Regions from separate parts of the Homo sapiens genome. Here regions 2, 3 and 4 are each linked to region 1. The links come from fine-mapping of genetic effects on gene expression. A gene starts in region 1. Each other region holds a variant in brackets. All regions are shown on one strand. Distances are between the middles of the regions. Region 1 holds the start of ADGRD1 (adhesion G protein-coupled receptor D1). Region 2 holds the start of ADGRD1-AS1 (ADGRD1 antisense RNA 1). Region 3 overlaps ADGRD1 (adhesion G protein-coupled receptor D1). Region 4 overlaps ADGRD1 (adhesion G protein-coupled receptor D1).

What was found. PIP is the estimated chance that this variant, and not a neighbour inherited with it, causes the effect. A credible set is the group of variants that fine-mapping cannot tell apart.
Region 2: its variant is the best candidate, but not a certain one, in a credible set for the expression of ADGRD1 in prefrontal cortex (BrainSeq, PIP 0.59).
Region 3: its variant is the best candidate, but not a certain one, in a credible set for the expression of ADGRD1 in lymphoblastoid cells (GENCORD, PIP 0.71).
Region 4: its variant is the best candidate, but not a certain one, in a credible set for the expression of ADGRD1 in testis (GTEx, PIP 0.51).

What each region holds. Positions count from the first base shown.
Region 1 is chr12:130,950,780-130,955,923 of GRCh38, reverse strand. ADGRD1 (adhesion G protein-coupled receptor D1) reads right to left here and starts at 2,017. Exons shown (of 25, transcript NM_198827.5): 1 at 1,393-2,017; 2 at 1,264-1,300. The coding sequence starts at 1,458.
Region 2 is chr12:130,989,498-130,994,641 of GRCh38, reverse strand. ADGRD1 (adhesion G protein-coupled receptor D1) reads right to left here. Exons shown (of 25, transcript NM_198827.5): 7 at 3,564-3,628; 8 at 2,250-2,405. ADGRD1-AS1 (ADGRD1 antisense RNA 1) reads left to right here and starts at 666. Exons shown (of 2, transcript NR_131951.1): 1 at 666-734; 2 at 3,505-4,016. RefSeq lists an enhancer at 4,685-4,854. The variant T/A (reference allele first, on the strand shown) is at 2,959.
Region 3 is chr12:131,093,344-131,098,487 of GRCh38, reverse strand. The region is part of intron 15 of ADGRD1 (adhesion G protein-coupled receptor D1); the gene reads right to left. Among named protein-coding and RNA genes, the nearest start is that of LINC01257, 69 kb to the left of the region's middle. The variant C/T (reference allele first, on the strand shown) is at 2,512.
Region 4 is chr12:131,116,708-131,121,851 of GRCh38, reverse strand. It overlaps ADGRD1 (adhesion G protein-coupled receptor D1), which reads right to left. Exons shown (of 25, transcript NM_198827.5): 19 at 3,401-3,467; 20 at 939-1,005. Among named protein-coding and RNA genes, the nearest start is that of LINC01257, 46 kb to the left of the region's middle. The variant G/C (reference allele first, on the strand shown) is at 3,102.

The DNA.
Region 1 (5,144 bases):
CCAGCTGCTTGGAAGGCTGAGGCACAAGAATCGCTTGAACCCGGGAGGCAGAGGTAGCAGAGAGCCGAGACTGAGATCTCACCACTCAACTCCAGCCTGGGTGACAGAGTGAGACTTTGTCTCAAAAAATAAAAACAAAAATAATTTTTTTAAAAAGGCTGATTTCCCATCAGAGACAGGCAGGGCCATACAATAGCGCTCGGGGGGGTGCCCAGCCAAGCTCTGGTGGGGCGGGGGCAGAGGCTGTGCTCACAACAGGCTTCCCAGCAGGGGTTCAGGCACTAGCAGGGTCTCCTCCCCACCTCCTGCAACTTCCAGCAGGGAGCAACAGCCCAGTGACTGCCTGCTGCTCCCAGAAAGCCTCGTCTTCCCATCCCTGCCCCTGGCTGACCAGAACGTGTGCCCACACTCTTAACAGCGAAGGGTGTGTGCCTCCCTGTCTTCCCGAGAGAAGCCCCGTCCTGATGCTTCCTGGTTGGGTGTCACAATGGCCAATGGAATGTGGCTCTGGGGCTGGAGCAAGGGTGGCCCTCTATCCCGAGTCCCACTCATCGGCTGCTCCAGGCTAAGCTGGTCAGCACTCTGAGGCTGGAGGTCCCGAGACCCTGCTATGGGCCAGAGCTCCAACTCCCCACCAGTGAATCTGCCCTGAAGACATGAGATGGGTGTGGTGGCTCACATCTGTAATCCCAGCACTCTGGGAGGCCAAGGCGGGCGGATCACCTGAAATCAGGAGTTCGAGACCAGCCTGGCCAACATAGTGAAACCCTGTCTCTACTAAAAATACAAAAAAAAAAAAAGCTGGGTGTAGTGGTGCACACCTGTGATCCCAGCTACTCAGGTGGCTGAGGCAGGAGAATTGCTTGAACCCGGGAGGCAGAGGTTGCGGCCACTGCACTCCAGCCTGGGCAACAGAGCAAGACTCCATCTCAAAAAGAAAAAAAGGAAGAAAGGAAGAAAGAGAGAAAGAGAGAAAGAAAGAGGCAGAAGGCATTCAAATGAAGATCATATTTCCTTAATCACAATGTTTCATATGACCCAGCTCAAGGGGCCCAGAACCACTTCTCCATCCACCGCTCAGCCGGTGAGGGGTAGCAGAGCTGCCCAGGGTCACAGTGTGTGGTGAGGCAGTGAGGTCGGGGACCAGGAGCCCAACAAGGGCCATTCGCTGATGCCTCAGAGATGAACAAGTGGGCTGTTCCTGAGATACCTGCACTAGGCAGGGGGAGAGCGGTGCTCAGAGTGAGAAGGAAACACTCTTACCTGGATGGTCCTGCGATCTGGAGTAGACGCCACGCACCTGCGCACAAAAGACCACAGTGTGAGACACACTCAGGGAAAGCCTCCGGAGAAACCAAGCCTGTCGCCATCCTGGCCACTTGGGGACATTACCTGAAAGTTGTAATAAAATAGCAGCAGCCAGGAGTACCAGCAGCACAGCCGCAGCAGCTTTTCCATGGCTCTCTCGGAGGTCAAAGCTCGGAGCCAAGTGAAATTCCTGAGGGTCTGTGAGAACGGGACCTCTTAACCTTCACTTCCTTGGAAAAGGGACATTTTCACAGGTTCCAGGGGAGAAAATTTCTGTCTCCTTAAAGTTTGTGAAACACAGCTGTCTTGGAGACCTAATGGGTGTTTCTTCCTCGTCTCAAAACTTGAGATTCTTCAGTGATCAATAAACACGTTGCGATGACCAGAGCAGCTGTGGAATGCAGGGAGGAGAAACCCAAACCCGACTCGCAGTCCTGGGAAAGCAATCCCAGGTCACCACTGTGACCGCGACCTGCGCCCGGGGACGGGAGGCTGTTTGTCCTGCGGTATTTTCTTTTTATTTCAAGAGCCTCCGTTTGTCTCAGTCAGGTTTGGAGCTTCCCTTTTCTCTGAAGAAGGTTTTGTGCGTGGTTTTCCCCTGGAGCGCCCGCCTGCTCCTCGGGCTTGTCCTGCGGCCGCTCTCGAGCTCCTTCTGGTCTGGCTCAAGTTCACACCTCCGTCCTGCTCTCTGGGTGGAGGGGGAGTGAGTGATGTAAGTCTCTCTCCTCAAACTTTGTTCTGTTCTCCTTTTCTATTTATATCCCCACTGCTGTGTCCTTCCTGGGTCCTAACTCCAGCCTCTTAACAACAGCTGAAATATTTCCAGGATCTCAGGCTCAGAATCAAACCAAACAGACATGGTGTGTGGTGTGTGTGCGTGTGCGTGTGTGTGTTACTGATGCCTTCTGGTCAGCACCTTCAAAGTCGGCATAAATATTAATAAATACAAAATGCAAAACAAACCATAAACTCTGTTTAGATCTGAGTCTTGTTTGCCCCCAAAAGAGAATGAAGTTGACAGAGGGATGGAAAAGAGAAAGCAGCACACCCACTGTGCCCTCCATATTAAGCGCTGACCACATTTTTCTCTCTAATCCTTTCGGACGTCAGTGAAAGCTACGGAATTAATTACAAGGTACGCTGCGCAATTACACCATCCCACATATACCCCCACCCCAGCACCAGGAGGATGTTCTCAATGGGATAGAAAAGAGTCAGCCCCTTCGCCAGACATGCCTCAGTTTACCCAAGACCAAAGTTTATCCGATCTACTCCAAATACACGTGGACACACAGAGACACACACCCTAGAATTGCAGTCACAGCTATATTTGCTATGTGATTTAAGTAATATTTACCGCTTCATACTTTCTCCAACATTCACCAGCTGTGCTCCTAGGCAAATTACTTGATCTCTCTTAGTTTTCGAATTCCTCATCCACAAAATGGGGGTTAATAGTTCCTCCTCCTCAGGGCTGTAACAATAAATTAGAGGACAGATCCAAGGCTCTTCAGGCAGTACTTGGAAAATATGTGGCACTCAGTAAATGCTGCTATTTTCTATTAAGAAAAATTATCACTCAGTAAATGTTAGCTATGATTATTATTAGCAAGTATAACATAACACCCAGTAAATGTTAGCTGATACAGTTATCTCAATTGTCCTGACTTTAAATGGGAATTAAGAATCCTGAATCCAACATACTTCCTAAAGAGGATAAGAAAATGACTTCCAATCTCTGTGGGACAGAAAAAAAGAAAGTGCTGTCAAAACGTTAGGTGATTATTTTTAACTTGTGCCTGCAGCCTACAACCGCTCAGATCCTCTGATAGCCTGAGCCTCTCTGTGGAGCTGGAGAAGGGTTCCAGAGAGTTCCATCTCCTAGCAATGGAGAAACTGTGAACTCCAAAGGCCGGGGGCTGTCTGTAATAACGACCTTTATCCTGTTGCTCAGGCTGGTCGGCTTCAGGGAAAACTAATTTACAACCTTTATCTCTGCCATTTCATCAGCTCTCCAGTCCCCCACTGCCTCTCGCTGGAAGAGGTGAAGGGAGGGACAGGCAGCTGCAGGTTTTTCTCAGCTCCAGTTTTAACCTGGAAGAATTCAACAGATTGCTGAATATGCGGACCTTTCCCATCTCCATGACCGAACAAAGCCAGCATGGTTTCTTTTCATCATAAAATTGTCATCAGATAATGGGAGACACCCCGATTCAATGACTGTAATAAAAACTAGATAGCAAAGCAATTCAGCAGAGCTTGCCCTGCAGGCATCTGCACTCATCCTCAGACTCACTCTGACTCTCCATCCCGGACTACAGTCTCGTGCCTCATGCTATTTGCCTGCGTCCTGTCTCAGGCCTTGTTCAGAGGCCCAGATGAAGAGCCCGCCTCCATGTAAAGCAGCGTGTCCTGAAGCCTGGAGATTTGAGACAGGGCCTTGAGTGGTCCATGGGCCTGGAACCAAGCAACTCTGATGTCTCTGAGCATCTCATTCCATCACCCAAACGTCGGGGTGTTCGGCACCCAAACATCACCTTGACAGCAGGTCTCCCTCCCCCTAAAGCCCTCCCCTGCTGTATTTTCTCGATCCCACTAACCACGATCCAATGTACTTCATATCTTAGACGTTTATTTCATTTATTGTCAGTCTCTCCCCACCGAGGCGTAGGCCCCATGAGAGCAGAGACCTTCTTTCTGCCTGTTCGCTCTGCACCCCAGCCCCGAGAACAGGGCTTGGTACTTGGTGAGCACTCAGCGTTTGTCACCAAACCCAGCCTGGCTCTGCCCTCCCGCAGCAAAGCCAAACATGGACGTCGGGATTGCAGTGAGAGGAAGTGAGGCATTTAGAGCAGGGCACCAGGCGAGCAGAACCTGGCAGCTCACACTTCAGACCTGAACTCCCCGATGGCTGATGGGGGAGGGTTTTTCAAGGTGGAGAGGCAGAGGTTACAGGCTAAGTCCCACATGAATAATACCTGGAGGCTGCACATTGGTTTGACCTAAAAAGCTAGGACATCTTGAACTGGGGGCCCACAGGTCATATAGGTAGTAGATTCAGAGGTTTTCTGATTTGTGATTGGTTAAGAAGGCAAGGCTTTGTCAAAAAATTTGAGATCAGCAAAAAAGAATGTTAGCTCTGGCCTGTGGGCATGACCTCCTCCAGGCCCCTCAGGAAGAAATTTAGAACAAAGAACAGTGGTGGGCCCGGAGGGGTGGATCCCAACACTTTGGGAGGCTGAGGCAGGTGGATCACCTGAGGTCAGGGGTTCGAGACCAGCCTGGCCAACATGGCGAAACCCCGTCTCTACTAAAAATACAAAAATTAGCCGGGTGTGGTGGTGCATACCTGTACTCAGGAGGATACTTGGGAGGCTGAGGCAAGAGAATCGCTTGAACCCAGGAGGCGGAGGTTGCAGTGAGCTGAGATTGAGCCACTGCACTCCAGCCTGGGCAACAGAGTGAGACTCTGTCTCAAAAAACAAAGAACAAAGAACGGTGGTGGAGTTCAGCTCTCCGCTCCCCCATATCAGAGGTCTGTAAGTCAACAGATCCATTTGGTGGGGGTCCAGGTTCTGAAAAACAACTCCGGGTCGTTTGTTACGATGTTGTCTTTAGTTTCTACAGGGAAGCAATGAATTCCTGACTCTAACTCTCTTGACTATTGTTTCTCGCCACTATTAACTTCTTGCTTCCCAAGTTGCTCATGTATTTCTCAGGGCTAGCTAGGTGGCTGGAATTCCCCTTCAAGGAACCCAAGATTTTATTGTATTTATTTATTTATTTTGAGATGGAGTCTCATTCTGTTGCCCAGGCTAGAGGGCAGTGGCACGATC
Region 2 (5,144 bases), 39 kb before region 1:
CGTCTAATTAATTTATCCTCACTCGGACTCCCTCCTTCCCTAGACACCCGGAAACACAGAGGGAGCCTGCTAAGTGTCTGCTGCACATTCCTGAGGATGCTGCAGGGTACCCATGGCTAGTCAGACGGGAGGGCGCCCGTGCCCAGAGTGGGTGTTTATTGAGCGCCGACTGTGTACCACGGCTAGAGGGGAGGGTGCCAGTGCCAAGTGGGCATGAAGCCCCGACTGCATACCTTAGCTACAGGCAGGGCACTAGTGCCCGGAGTGTGAGTGTTTACTAAGTGCTAACTGCATAGAAGGCACCGCCTGCCACAGTCACCCCTTGTAGCCCATCTCAACAAAAACAAGAGTGTTCGTATTAATAAAGCACTTACTGCATACCAAGCCCTGTCTCGGGGCCTCACGCCCGGTCCTGTGCATACATGCATAAGGACCTTCCAGCTTGTCTATACCCGCTCTTTCCACCCAACACCCCGCGGGTCCTTCCCTTCGGAGCCCGGAAGCGCTCCCACACTGGGCAGCCTTGGCCCCACCCTAGAGCTCCTTCATGATTGGCTGAGCTGGTTGCTAATCCCACTCCCCTTGGTTAGTGATTGGCCCAGGTGTGGTCATGTGGCCCAGCTCTGGCCACTGAGATGTGAGGGGGTGTCTCAGCAAAGGGAACCATGGGAAAGATTTCCCCCTGACGAGGAGGGAGTCTCCCGACCCGTTCTTTCCCTCCTGGACGTGCCAGGGTAAGGCGAGGGTGCTGGGGGCCTGCAGCTGGGCGAGAAAAGGGCCGAGTGCCGAGAGAATTGTGGCGGTGCCTATCCAGCCCCTGCTGTGAGTGAAGACTGAGTTAGTGACTCCTAGGATTCCCGCCTCTGGGCCTCTTGTTGCCTGAAGCGAGTACATGGCCTGAAGTCTAAGTCCGCTAAGCAGAGGGCCCTGTTTCTCACAGCCAGAAGTACCTGAGACACATGGGCGATCTCACTGTCCCCATGTCACAGTGGGAAGCAGGTGTGCTGAGGTTAAATAACCTTCCCACGGACACAGAGCCGGGAGTGGTGGAGCTGGGGTCAAAGCCAGGTCTCTGTGACTCCAGGACCGCTGAGTCCCGCAGCTCCATGTAGTTCCCTTTAAAGCCCCTCTCAGACTCCATGACCTGTCATCACTCCCTCAACCCTGAGCCTCTTGAAAGCAGGGAGTATTAGCACTTGGTCATCCTGCACTCCCAGAATCTAGTATGGTCTATGAATGAATGAATGAATGAATGAATGAATGAATGAAATCTGAGAAGTCTAACTTCTCTTACGTGGACAGAAAAGCTGAGGGCAACCTCCCTCCATTCCAAGATGTCTCAAGTCCCTGAACACATGGCTCTGCATGTGCTTCTTTGGGTGTGACTTCAGCAAGGAAATCAGTAAGAATTAAGAACCCTTGAAAAGTGCTCACCACGTACCCAGCACTGTTCTGTGCACATAGGAACCCACTTATCCCCGATGAAGTGGGCGCTGTTATTATTTCCTCCACATCTCAGGAGCCAAGTGAGGCAGAGATGTTAGGTCACTTGACCAAGGACACAGAGTAACTGCAGATCAAAGGTCAGTGCAGCCGTGGGACTTCATATACCCTGCTCCTAACCCATATGCTGTGCTTTCAAGGTGAGCCAATCTCAAAACCCCTTCTGTCTTCGCATCCACCAAGATAAGCCCTAGCCCTAAAACAGAAGACAGCAAGTCCACGAGAGCCCACGATCCACCCTCTGCCTTCACCTGGAAACTATTTGGAGGAGCAGAAAGAGAAACCATCTTGATTTTAATGCCATAAATGTTGCATTCTCTAAGTGTTTAGATAGCTTTGGGGACTCCCACTGTGCACAGGCTGTGGCCCACGCCCCACGGCTGGATCTGCCAGTGAGGCCTCTCCACCTTTTACCTGTTGCCAGGAGGCAGCAGAGTTTATTTAGTCTAGGAGTTGCCAACCACACGCCCGCGGGGGCCAGGTGGCTGCACAGGGGGGACCAGGCAGGTTGGGCATTGGGAAACCACAGCAAAGACTCAAGTGCCCATAAAGGAAGCTCCGCTGAGCTGTACAGAGCTGGCCAGGAGGGCCACACCAGCTGGTTGTTCATGAGAAGCCTGAAACCCAAACGTTTCAGTAAAAGTTCCTGCTTTTTTTAAACTCGATCTAGGTCAAACAGAAACATCTATGGTCCCGGTAAGGGTGCCACGCCCGGTCCACCAGACACAGACATCAAATAGCCTTACCTTGGTGAGATTCAAGGCTGTCTGCTCCGAGAGGGACTTACTGGGTAAGCTGAGGGATACATTTTGGAGGTAACTCAGTATCACTCCGGGACTTTGGAAGGTTTTTCTCTCTTCTGTCAGGTTGGTTATGATGGGATGGTAGGCATCTGTGGGCATCTGAAAGAAATTGGCAACATGAGTTTCTACTAAGAACTAAAACCAAAATATTATACAGAAGTTTAATGTGTCCTACTCTGGGTCGAATGCTTTTTTTAATTTTTTTTTTTTTTTTTGAGACTGAGTCTTGCTCTGTTGCCCAGGCTGGAGTGCAGTGGCGCAATCTCGGCTCACTGCAGCCTCTGCCTCCCGGGTTCAAGCGAGTCTCTTGCCTCAGCCTCCCAAGTAGCTGAGACTACAGGCGTGCACCACCATGCCTGGCTAATTTTTGTATTTTTAGTAGAGACAGGGTTTCACTGTGTTGGCCAGGCTGGTCTCGAGCTCCGGACCTCAAGTGATCCTTCTGCCTCGACCTCCCAAATTGCTGGGATTACAGGCATGAGCAACTGTGCCTGGCTGCTCTTTTTTTTATTTATAGAGATGGGGTTTCACTGTGTTTCCCAGGCTGGACTCGAGCAGTCCTCCTGTCTCAGCTTTCTGAGCAGCTGGGACTACAGGTGCAACCACCACACCCAGCTGGTCAAATGTTTTTATACCATGATAGTAATATAGC[T/A]CCTACCATGTATCTGACACTTTTGTGAATATTTTGCTTATATTAACATTTCATCCTCACAACAACCTTACAAAATAAGTCCCCATTTGATGGATGACACTAAGCGCAGAGAGGCTTACTCAAAAATAAGTGGTAGAACTTGGATTTGAACCCAAGCAGATGGGTCAGAGTCTGTGCACTCACTATTATATTAACGTTCTCAAGAAAGGACAGTTCTTTAACTACAAACACTAATTCCAGACAAGAATTTTTCTATATGAATTGAACTTTTCTCTAACATCAAACGAAAAGGGCATAGAGAGAAGCCAAGCAGGGCAGATTCCTCACTCCCCACTCACGGCGCCCACGTCCCATGAATGAGCCCGGTATTTCCTTTTGGGCACCTGAGGTTCCTGGTGGCAGGAGTTGAGAGTTTTCCCTTCAGTCACTCTTAGCACCAAGAATTAGTACTGCAGTTGGCTTCCCCTCCATTTGTTATTTCTTCCCAGACAATGTACTGCCGATAACAGAGAGCCCAGACACCTAATGGAATTTTCTCTCTCCCAGCAAACAGCCCAAGCAGAAGAACATCAGCAAGGGGGACCAAGGAAGATGTGTCTGCTCACCACGGGGCTTGCTGTGGATGTCATGAAGAGGCTTGGCAGCGTTGAAGACAATAAAGCATGCTTTCCTGGAAGAAACAATGCTGGATTAAGGACTAAAACATGGTCACTTTTTTCACCACGAGGAAGACCTGTCCTTGTTAAAAATGTACTGGCTTCAGACACATGGAAGAGAGTCTGAGAATGTTTTGAGTAGGAATGTTGCTGGAGATAAATTATGGGCTAAGAAATCAGCTGACTGAGTCGACCGTATAGATTTTCCCAGGTCACATTACTTTTCCATTTGTATTCTCAATCGCTTTTGAACACCCTTCATGCAAGTCAGCATATCAAAAGATGATTTTATACAAGGATTACCGATTTCAAATAAATAAAGAACCAAAAGAAATAGATTTCAATTGCATCCAGACTGGTTGGAGATAAAATGAGGAGTGCTACAACTCGCTGGGCCAGCACAGACAGGAGCCCTGGGAGCGCTCTCCTCTGAGATCGATGAAGTGAGAATAGGCCCCAGTAAAGCAGTGGAGAAAACTGTCTTCCTGAGCCCCCTCTAGCCCAAGGATTCCAGCTATTCTTTGCACTCAGCCCCCATGGGGTTAATGATGAATTATTACAAACAATGAAGACATTTAAGGCTGAAGACTAAGCCATGATTTGCTGTTCTCTGCCTGTTCACCCCCAACTATTTCTAATCCCACTATTTCCTGATGAGAACACACACTTAACCAGATATTCTACTTCATTTTTGGAAAATCTCTTGAAGTTGCTTTGGATGAGCTGAGGAAATGACATCATCACCCCTTGCTGGCTGCAGGAGTGACTGAGCCCTTGGGTTTGGGTGGGGTTGGGCTGCTGGTGAACGCAGAAGGTGTGGCGCTGCCGAGAGAACTGGACCCCAGAACCGCTCTGTTCTCCAAGTCAGAGTGACATTCACTCCTCAGGTGCCAATGAGTTACAGAGGAGTCATGTCAAACTCACATTTAACTCGTGTGTGTCCACAAAGCAGAGTGAGGGATAGTGAAAATCGGTCCAGCGATCCTGCCAACGCTTGCAAGCGATGACCATGGAGACTGGGGTGAAAATGAGAATCTGCCAGGTCCTCAGTCGGTCCCAGTTCCCACGTGTTGAGTGTGTTTCCAGTGCCCAAAGGTACATGCTTTCCGATTACACGTATCTGAACATAACCTTCTTCCTCCTCTACAGAAAGAGCTGCTGTCCATTCCAGTGGTAAGGGAGAGGGGACACCTGGCCAGGGTGACAGACGGTCAGCACTGTGCCTTTGTATCAGGAAAGGCCACCACACCTGGACGGACCGGTCAGCAAATGGTGCCAGCTCTGGCTCATGAGATTAGAGGAGGTGTCACCTCTGCCCAGGTCACTCAGAAAAAAGCCCCCTCTGGGCACCTACAGCCCCAGCACAGCTTCAAATGCAGACAGGTCTTCATGTAAAGAAAGACTTCTACCTACTTGTGTGGCCATGTCCCCACCGAGGCCCGGCCTGGCTGGGAGCAGACTGGATTTCAGTTCCAGTTGTCACTCTGCATGGCTGCCCTGAACTCGGCTGTGTCAGACTCACTGAGCAGT
Region 3 (5,144 bases), 140 kb before region 1:
GCACCAGCCCCATCCTCTACCATGTCCCTCCTGGCTTGGGTTCCGCTGTACACTGGAGCCTCGTCCCTCATGGCTCACCCCCTCCATAGCGCCTGAGTCTCAGACTCAAACCCCCATTCCCCCACCATGGCTTCTGAGGCCCCGCATGCTCCAGCCCCAGCCCGTGCCTCTGACCTGCCTCCATCCACCCTCTCCCTTCATCATGGGAAAGCAAGACCCTCCCCGCTCGGGATTGGACTTGGGGAGCTGGTTATGAAGGTGAGGGAAGCCCTGAAAAAGCAGAGAAGGCAGTGAGGCAGCCCAGACAGCAGCCACTGCGGGAGAAGGAAGTGAGGCCCAGACAGCGGCCACCGCGGGAGGACAGTGGGAGAGGGGACAGCAGCAGAGCCAGGCCGGGCCACCAGCAGAAACTGGAACCAGACCAGCCTGCCCAGGTGAGGCTGGCGCGGGGGTGCAGGGGAGGGTCTGCATGCAGGCGCTGGAGCCACAGGGGGACGCCCATGCCAGCAGGAGCCCAGGCAGGAGGCTGGCCCCTTCGCCCACCCCAGCAGCACCATCTCTCCTTGGTTGGACTTGGCAGGAAGCCAAGCGTAGGGCAGAGAGCAGGGTGAGCAGAGGATGGGCTCCCGGGCACAAGAGCAGGAACTCCGGGCTAGGTCCACACTCCACCCCCACACCAGCCCTTGAACCAACCATCTGCTCCCCAACCTTTGACGCCCACCCTGTCCCGGCCAGGCTGGCTCCTGCCTGTCTCTGGTCTCTCCGCGGCTGGCATCCAGGCTCTCACGGGGCCTGTCTCCCCTCAGGGCAGCCCTCAGCCCCTGGCTGGGCTGCACTCCTGCCCTTGGCTCCTGGACAGCACGAGTGACCAGGCCCTGGCGGATCTGTGACTCCAGGCATCCCTGGTTTGGCGGCCATCCCTGGCCGTAGGCAGCCGTAGCATGTGCCAGCAGCATGCAGCCAGCCTCCCCCGGGCTGGGTCCAGTTGCTGGCACATTTCACGTCCACTGATGGAAATGAACCGACAGCCCGGGGACAGGTAGAAATGAGCTGCTTGGCCACTTGAGGGGTGCTGCAGGACGGGAGAGGACTGGCCACAGGCAGGAGATCTTCCCCGAGGACCCAGCTGGGCTGCTGTGTGTTTGAACAGATGCTGGGACTGGCCTGCCTCGGGTCACAGTGACCTTGTTGAAAGTGTCAGCTGGGGGGACCATCACCCTCTTGTTTTCCAGACCAGGAACCCTGGGGGCTCCTGCTGTCTCCCCTGGCCGCACAGCTTGTGCATCAGTCTGGGGCCATCTGGGAAAACAGAAACCACTCCAGCCTTTCAAAGAGTGGAACATTTGACTCAGGGAATTGCTAACCCTCGGGAGGGGAGAGAAAGGGGGACCTCATAGGGGTAGTGAGGTGGCCCAGGAATGAGCCTCGCCACAAATCCCCCCGTGGAAGCCAGATCCATAGACTGTCCAGCAGGGCTGCAGCCACAGCAGAGGCGTGGCCACTGCCCAAAAAGCCACGTGTAGGGGCGAGAGAAGAGCTGCTGGGCCTCCTCCCCTCCCATCACCTGCCCCAAGTGACAGACCTGCAACTCAGCACAGTGGTCGGCCGTGGGAGGCAGAGCCGGGCAGCAGGAGGCAGGTGGATCTCAGAGCAGAACCCAGGACTCAACATGACTGGGAACTCAGGGCTGAGTCCCCACTGTGCCCCAGACGATGGCTGCTTTAAACAGTTGTGGCGATGTAAACCTGGACTGGCAGTGCCCCACGGGAACCCATCCTCACAGATGGAGGCGGGATATAAAACTGGACCGGCAGTGCCCCACGGGAACCCATCCTCACAGATGGAGGCGGGATGTAAACCTGGACCAGCAGTGCCCCACGGGAACCCATCCTCACAGATGGAGGCGGGATGTGTGCATAGGATGCTGGTTATTTGCTGCGGCCAAAGACCACCATGACTTCAGTGTCCACCCGCGGGAGAGCTATGCAGTGGTTAACACGGGAGATGTGGCTCTGTGTACCCTGAGAAGGAGCAACCTCCAAGATACGTGCATACATTTTTTAAAGTGTGCTATCTTGCCAGGCATGGTGGTGCACACCTCTAGTCTCAGCTGCTTGGGAGGCTGAGGTAGGAGGATCTCTGGAGCCCAGGAGGTCAAGGCTGCAGTGAGCCAAGGTGGCGCCACTGACTCCAGCCTGGACCACAGCGTGCAACCTTGTCTCTAACACAAATAAATTGTAAATAAAAATAAAGGGTGCAGTCTTTATGCTTCACTACCCTTTGTTTAAAGGAAGGTTTGCATCCATTGAGGTACAGAAAATTTTAAAAACAAACAAAAAAAGAACAAAGAGCAAAGCGGGGCCCCAGGCTCAGCAACTGCGTCTGGAATGACAGAAAAGCAAGCGCGTGTCTAGGCCGCTGCTCTGGGCAGGGCCGGGAGGCAGGAATGGTGGCCGTGACCCTAAGCCGCTGCTCTGGGCAGGGCTGGGAGGCGGGAACGGTGGCCGTGAC[C/T]GTCAGTTTCCACACTCTGCCTTCTGTGTTCTTGCATTTTCCCACATGCGTGTATCATCTTTACAAACAATTCAACCTACAGAACCCCTCTGTCTCCTGACACCCCAGCTTCCTGTATGTCCCAAAAAGAACCCTCGAGCTCCTGTCCCACTCCTAACACGGGGGCTGGCGGCTTCTCAAAGACGGCCCACATCCCCACTCTAATTCCCAAGATTCAACACACTCATGACAAAAAATACGTGTTGACCAGAAACCTGGCCTGCTTCAGACGTCAAGCCCTGACCACAGCCTTGCAGCCCACAGCTGCCCCGCAAAGCGACCCGATCCCTCGGCCGGGCTATGCGTCCATCTGCCCTGGGAACGTCCAGTCTGGCCCCTGACCATGTTCCCAGTCCTGGTCACCCGGCCCACCCTCAGCCCCACAGAGTAAGACCCCAATTCTGAGGGTAGCCCCGAAAGAAGATCCCCCAAGACAGGACCACCCCAGAGGCTGCTGCAGCTCCCTCTGCAGAGCGGCTCCAGCCCAGCACACTCCAGAGCAGACACTTCTTCAGGAGAATTAGGGAATAAATGAAGCAACATATGCTTCTCCTCTAAAAGGAGCAGCCTGGGTCTGGTTGGAGGAGGCAACGGCAATTGAATTTGTCAAGAGGGGCAGGGGTGGAACCCTCAGAACCTTGAAGCTACGTCTCCCTGCCCCCAGGACTGCAAGGTGCCCAGGCAGGGCTGGGGCTGAGCTGACAGCAAAGCTGAGTCCCGGCAGCAACTGGCTGCTGCTCCACCTCGAAGTGCAGGTTTTTACCTCTTAGGCCCATTTCCCAATGTCCCAGGTGGCCAGCAGCCTGAGAGTCGGGGGGACTGAAGGGAGAGATGGGGGTGGCAGGTGTCAGCCCTGTTCCCAGGGCTCACTCAGCTCTCCACTCAGAGAGGCACAGGCCACAGGGTACAGGGGAGGGCCCTGGGGGCTGAGAGGGGGCGTCTCGAGGGAGACTGGAGGGGCATGGGAAGGGGTGGGTAGGGCAGGAGACGGGAGGGGGTGGAAGGACGCATGCCCCTGCGCCTCCCCCGGGTGAGCTCCCAGCTCCCATCCCCAGCCCAGCTCTCAGCAGCCCAGGACAGGGCTCAGGAAAACTCATCTGTAAGGCGGGGCGGGAACAGCGTGCACCCGTGCACCTGGAGGGCTTGCTGGTGGAATGGTAAGGAGCCCATGCAGAAGGACCCAGCAGGCTTTGCCCACCACCCTCTCCTTCTGGAAGAACTGCACAGGCTGGGAAATCAGAAGGGATGGTGACAATTTTCTGGGTCTCTAAGAGGATGGTACTGAGGATGCATGCCCTCCCCACTCAGCCAGAAGACACTGGTGAACCACAGTATTGCTTGGGGAGTCGGGGGGGCGCTGCTGAACAAACCAACTTCCTTGTTACTCCTGGGCAAGGCAGGACCCTCTTCTGCCTCCAGGATTAGAGGGGTCCAGGGATGGGTGGAGGGGCCTCTCCTTGGAGCCCCTCCAGCCTCCACAGTTACCCCCACCCCCATCAACAGGGCAATAGACCGTCCTGCCCCGGTGCCCACAGCCACAGGACTGAACCTTCCTTATGAAGAGTGAATGGAAGGAGACTTGTGGCCATGAACGGGTCAATGCTGGGATGGCTGCAGTCCCAGGTGCAGTAGCCAGGCCTGCTCCACCCCACCCCACTCCCACTCCACTCTCAGGGGTCCTCAGGGCCAGGACATCCCTAGGGACCTCATACTCATGGCTCACTGTGACTTCACTCTGTCAGGCAGTGTTTGGGGCTGGGTGCTGAGGCTGGGTACTGAGGCTGTGTACTGAGACTGGGTGCTCAGGGCTGGGTACCGAGGCTGGGTGCTCAGGGCTGGGTGCTGAGACTGGGTGCTCAGGGCTGGGTGCCGAGGCTGGGTGCTGAGGCTGGGGACTGAGGCTGGGTGCTGACGCTGGGTGCTGAGGCTGGGTGCTCAGGGCTGGGTGCTGAGGCTGGGTGCTCAGGGCTGGGTGCTGAGGCTGGGTGCTGCTGAGGCTGGGTGCTTGGGCCTGAGCTGTGCTTACTTCTGCCTCCTCATCACCACCACAGCTCCACAAGGAAAGGGTCCCACCCATGTCACAGCGGGGAAACTGAGGCTCAGAGCAGGCACCTGCCCAAGGCCACCTGGCACATCACTGGGAGGGACCTGTGTGTCCAGCTGGCTGGGAGGCAGAGGGGCCACTACTAACCCCAGCTGCATGCAGGAGGTGTTATTGGGAGGTGGTCTGGCTAACATTCACACAGAGACCCCGTGGAGGGAGCCTGTTTCTGACTTGAGCTGTACATGCTGCGGCTGCCGGCACTGCAGTTGGCACAGTCCCGCCTGTGACACACCCTCGGGACCGCAAATACAGCTCAGAGTGGTTCTCACAGCTCCCAGCAACACCGTGTAATTCAGGCCCCTGCCACTGCCCGCCCTGTGCCCTTCCCTGGAGCCAGGGCCCATCTGAGAGGCTCAAGGCTGCACCTGGCTGGGTAACCGCGGGGCACGGGGCCTAGAACCATGGGTCTGGGCGGAGGCTGCACTGCCGTTCCTGCCTCAGGAAGGCGTGGTGTGCCCCCACGGTGCCCTTCCTTTCCCACCCATAGCTA
Region 4 (5,144 bases), 170 kb before region 1:
ACTTGCGATGGGAGTGCTGGGAAAAAGCCTCCGTTTCCATCCGGGGAGGCAGAGAAGATGAGGGACGAGCCTCATGCCAGTGCAGGTGCAGGAGCCCTGGGCCCAGCCTCCCCACAGATGGTCCTGACTCAGGAACCTGTAAATCCCCATCCGTGTTTAAACACTGAGTTGGGGCCAGGCACAGTGGCTCACGCCTGTAATCCCAGCACTTTGGGAGACAGAGGAGGGCAGATCACCTGAGGTCAGGAGTTCGAGACCAGCCTGGCCAACACGGTGAAACCCCGTCTCTACTAAAAATACAAAATTAGCTGGGCGTGGTGGCGCATGGCTGTAATCCCAGCTACTTGGGAGAGTGAGGCAGGAGAATCGCCTGAACCCAGGAGGCAGAGGTTGCAGTGAGATCGCACCACTGCACTCCAGCCTGGGAGACAAAGTGAGACTCCGTCTCAAAAAAACAATAACAAAAACAACAACAAAAAACTCTGAGTTGGGTTTTCTGTCACTTGCAAACCACTGTAACTGTAACTGTTATGTGTGGTTCCCAGGAGGCTTCTGCTGAGATTCCCCTCTGCAGCCTTGGAGTCCTGGTGACTCCTGAGCAAGGAGCTAGCCGGTGGGTGAGAAGGCACCGGAGGATGGGGAAGGACGAGCCCGCGCCTGTGCTGTTCTCAGGGCTGTGTGCCTGCACCTGCCGCCTCGACTGGAAGAGCCCTGGGGCCTCGAGTGGACCCGCCTGGAAAGCACCGCCTTCCTGAGCATTCCGGGAAATAAGACCCTCAGTCACTGGCCCAGAGGAGCCCTAGCGAGGAGTGACCGAGGAACGACGCTGCATCCTTCGGAAGCTCCTCAGGGAGCCCCCCGCCATCTCCAGAGCCCCACACCCTCTCCTCCTGCCCCTCCCCAGCCCCGCTCTGCGCCCACAAGGGTAGGAAACGTACCACGATGACAAACAGGGCAGGGGCTACAAAGGCCCAGATGGCGCCACTCGCCAACGACAGCCAGCAACTGCGGAGGGAAGCAGAGCCGTTACTTCAACAACCTCGTTCCACCTGCCAGCGTACCTTCATCCAAAAGTAGTTGCTAAGGTGATGTCTTTCTCAGCTACAGGGTCCACCTGGGGCAGTCATACAACATTCCTAATCCCTGCAAATGTATTTTTATCCATGATGATCCCACGTCTCATTCTTGGAAAGGATTTTCCAGGTTTGAAGACCAGGACAGCAACCTCTGGAGAGTTTAGCCAAAATCCAGAATAGATTTCAATTTCATTAGGAAATAGACCTTTGCTGGGGACTGGCTTTCCTGCAGAGCACTTCAAGTATGACCCAATAGGGGCCTTCTGTGAGGGATTCCCATCCTGATGAGTCGTCAGCGATGCAGCACCTGACCATTCCCATATGCCCAAAGCTCGAGGTCAGTTCCCCTCTCTCCGTGCCCTCCAACTGAGAGGAAAGGTTCCAGAGGGTCCTAGTGATTGCTCTGATGTCCTGAGAGGAGGGTCCAGTTTGAGGATCTGGCCTCTGAGAAGTGACCCCAAGAACTCGGGCAAAAAAAAGCCAGCTCCTCCACAATTTTATCTCCAGAGCCTACGGCACTGTCAAGAGCCGAAGAGTCCCTAGGACCTCTCATCTTGACTCCTGGACACTGTTTCCCAAGGACCTGGAGTGCCTTTAATTGGATCTGGGCAGGTGCGTGGCGCAGTCCTCACTGGCACCCAATGTGGTGTCTCCCCGGGGCTGGCTTATTTCATCCCTCCGTGACTGCTCACTGAGCAGCAGGTCTGCCCCACAGCACAACAAACTCCATCATCTCATTTAATCCTATGCTGCCCCTGAGGTGGGCGCTATGATCACTCCAATCCTGCAGATGAGGAATCTGAGCCCTAAATAGCTCAGGTGACTTCAGAGATCACTGTCAGCACACTGCCTCCCTGCCCCCATTCCTCCCCAAAGCCTCCCGGACCAGGAGATGGCAAATGCCCCAAAACAAGAGACAGCACCTGCAAGAGGCTCATTCATGGCTGCACACCCAGAGCACGGAGAGGAGAAACCTCTCATCTGAGGATGCACTGTTTAAAAGGAAAATGCACTGCAAGTCTGAATGGTACCTCTGCAAAGGTGCGATTCAAACCAGGCTCTCCGGAGAGTAGGATGCTTCTGCAAAGAGAGAGATTGTGCTTTCCAGCACTTCATGCAGAATTTTAAGTCGACGAGGGGCTTCTGGTAGATACTCTATCCTGTTCAGAAACCTGGTGAGCTTCCTGAACCTGGCTGGTGCTGCCTGGCTTTCGGGCATGAGTGTGGGAAAAGGCTTGTATTACGGTCAGACCCCGGGACTCAGGACTGTGGGTCCAGCATCCCCAAGCTCCAGATGGGATAAAAGGGAACAAATGCCATTGAGCTGTGTTTGAGGAGAACATTCTTCTTCTAATTAGTCCCTCAACTTCTAACAGCATCCAGAATGAAAGGAAGGCCAGAACAGTGGTCTGCGTAACCATGCTTGTTTCACTGTGCGCTCAGACACTGCCTTCTACAAATGCTTCGCCTTCAGGGAACCTGCACCAACGTGGAAAAGGCTGGATTTCTCCCAGTTTCACTATTCGTCTGTACTATTATCTCATTCTGAAGCTGTGAAAATGCTCAACTTCCTTTCTGTTTGTAAGCACCGTCAATATTTATTTTCCATGTTTTCACTCAGTGGTTTCTCAGCGTGGCTAGGACAGGTAGCAGCTTCCAAGAAACATTTGAGTGAAAGCTCTTTTACTTGTAAGGAAAGAAAATCATCTTTCTGGAACGTGAACAGCTGATCTGGTCCCTCAGCACCATCCCATCCTCTTCCTGACACAACTGTGGACCCATGAGCTGCATTTCAAGTGGCAACAGGAGATACTGGACATCATAAGGTCCATCCCCTACTACCCAAGCAATGGGACCCTCAAGACCACCTGCCTGGTGCACAGCAGGCCCCACTTACTCCAACATGCATGTGTCTGCTCCCTGTGAGTTACTGGGCACACGGTCTGCACAGTGCGCTTGCTGGCCACCCCAAGAAAGGGTGAAAGGGCCACAATTCAGCCTCCGTGGATGACCAGAACTGTGTCT[G/C]AGAAGACCACGTGGGTGAAACATTTCCAAGCAGAAACTCCTAGCAGGCCCCCTGCTATTCCTGGAGGCGCTCTGTGGTCTTTGTTGCTAGTTCCGAGGCCCCAAAATGTCCAGAGCACAGCTGGGTTGTTTCTCCCTCTCCCTGGACCACGACTTTCTCACCGGCTGGGCCTGTGGGAGCCAGCTTTGCACAGCACCCCTGCACCCAGAAGAGCACAGGAAGGCAAGAGCCACGGGGCTCTCGCCACAAGCTGTTCCATGGAACGCCTGCCAAAAGCAAGGCAAAGCCCTGCACTTACTTGTTGCTTGTTCCGTAACTGTCCATGGCAAATGACAGTGAAATGATGCAGATCAGAAGAGGAAAACCTGCAGAAGATTGGAGAATATCATGTTCACTTGCTCCAGTTTTCTTCCCTCCCTCCCGCCTCCCCCATCCCTCCCTTCCTTTCTTCATTCCTTGTACACCTCATACATGTATACAGAGGGGGAACTATGTGCTAATTGTTGGGACACAGAACAGCCCCTATCCTCAAAGAACTTTTAGTCTAAACAAAGGAATAACACACACACACTCATACTCACATGTTCACACTTCTGTACTAGACAACAAAGTGTATGAGTCTTCATCAAAACAAACCATGTGGGTGAGATGTGGCATTGTGACTGGCAGGAAGGTAAGCTCAGCTTGGTCTATCTAGACCTGTGGTTCTCAACCAGGGCCAAGGTGGCCCCACAAGAGACAACTGGCAATGGCTTAAGTCATCTAGGGTTGTCATAACGGGATGGAATCAGGCAGGCAGAGGCCAGGGCTTCTGTTAAACACCCTACAATGCACAAGACTGCCCCACAAGAGTCACCCAGCCCAAGTATCCATAGTGTTGGTTGAGAAGCCCTGTTCTAGAGCGGCGGTGGAAAGGTGTGAGATCAGCTGGGACTGAGGGGACATCGGACATGGCTGACTTTGCCATGCACACAGTCCACATTCTTACAGTATTTGAGCCCATAATTTCCTTAGGGAACCTATCACACTCCATCTTTCCATGAGGTCCAGGTGGGCTGGTTCCTTCCTGGCTCTGAGGCATGTGACCCAGGACTGGCTGACTGGAACATCAAATCCCCCAGCCACAGCTATTGGTTCAAAGATGGGCATGTGACCCTGGCTGGCCCAATGAGACTCAATCAAGGGCTTTCTTCGAAACTGCTGAGAAGAAACTCTCTTTTCTACGGAGCCCCTAAGAGGATAAGGATGTCAGTGAGCTTGGGGTCCAGGCAGCCATTTTGGCACCACAAGAGATCAGATCTGAGAGACGGAAAAAGAAAACAAAATCTTGATTATATTACTTAAGCTCATGGATCAAGCCATATCTGAAGTCCAGCATCTTAGAACTTTTTTGTTATATGAGCCATCACATTCCCTTTTTGCCTTAGCCAGTTCAAGTTGGATTTCTATTACTTGAAACTGAGTGTGACAAATTAAATGTGTTTAATATTTGACAAAGCCAAGTGAGACTTTGGGGGTGGTGATAGAAGGGAGGCCCACGAATGAGGTAGAAAGCATCTGGATCACAGCAGTCCCCAGAGCTTCATCATTCTGCAACGAAAACACTCTATGGCCACACTACTTGTAGGAATTGACCTAACCCAAATCTGAACTGGCCTCTACTTTCACTTTTAAAGTGCAGAGGTTTTGTATGCTAATGTGTCTTATGACTCTCCAAAAGGAAGATCGCATTGCAACACTCCTCAAGCTCAGCCATCCACGGAATTTGTCTGGAAACATGGCTCTGCTTCCACACGCACGTGTGAGCTTTGAAACAGATCCTGCACGAATGGGAATCTGTTTCTGAAAAGAACACACTTCTCGTTATTCAGAAAGTGGGGCATCATCCACGGGGCCTGCTCTAGTGCAGCCACCCTGAGCACAGCAGCCTCTGTCCTCTGCTCCCTCTGCAGGGAAGGATGGGAGAGAGATGAGAGACTGCAAAGGACCAGCTCCTTACTCCACACCTGAACCTTTTCCCCAGGAGGATGCTCAAGAGACAC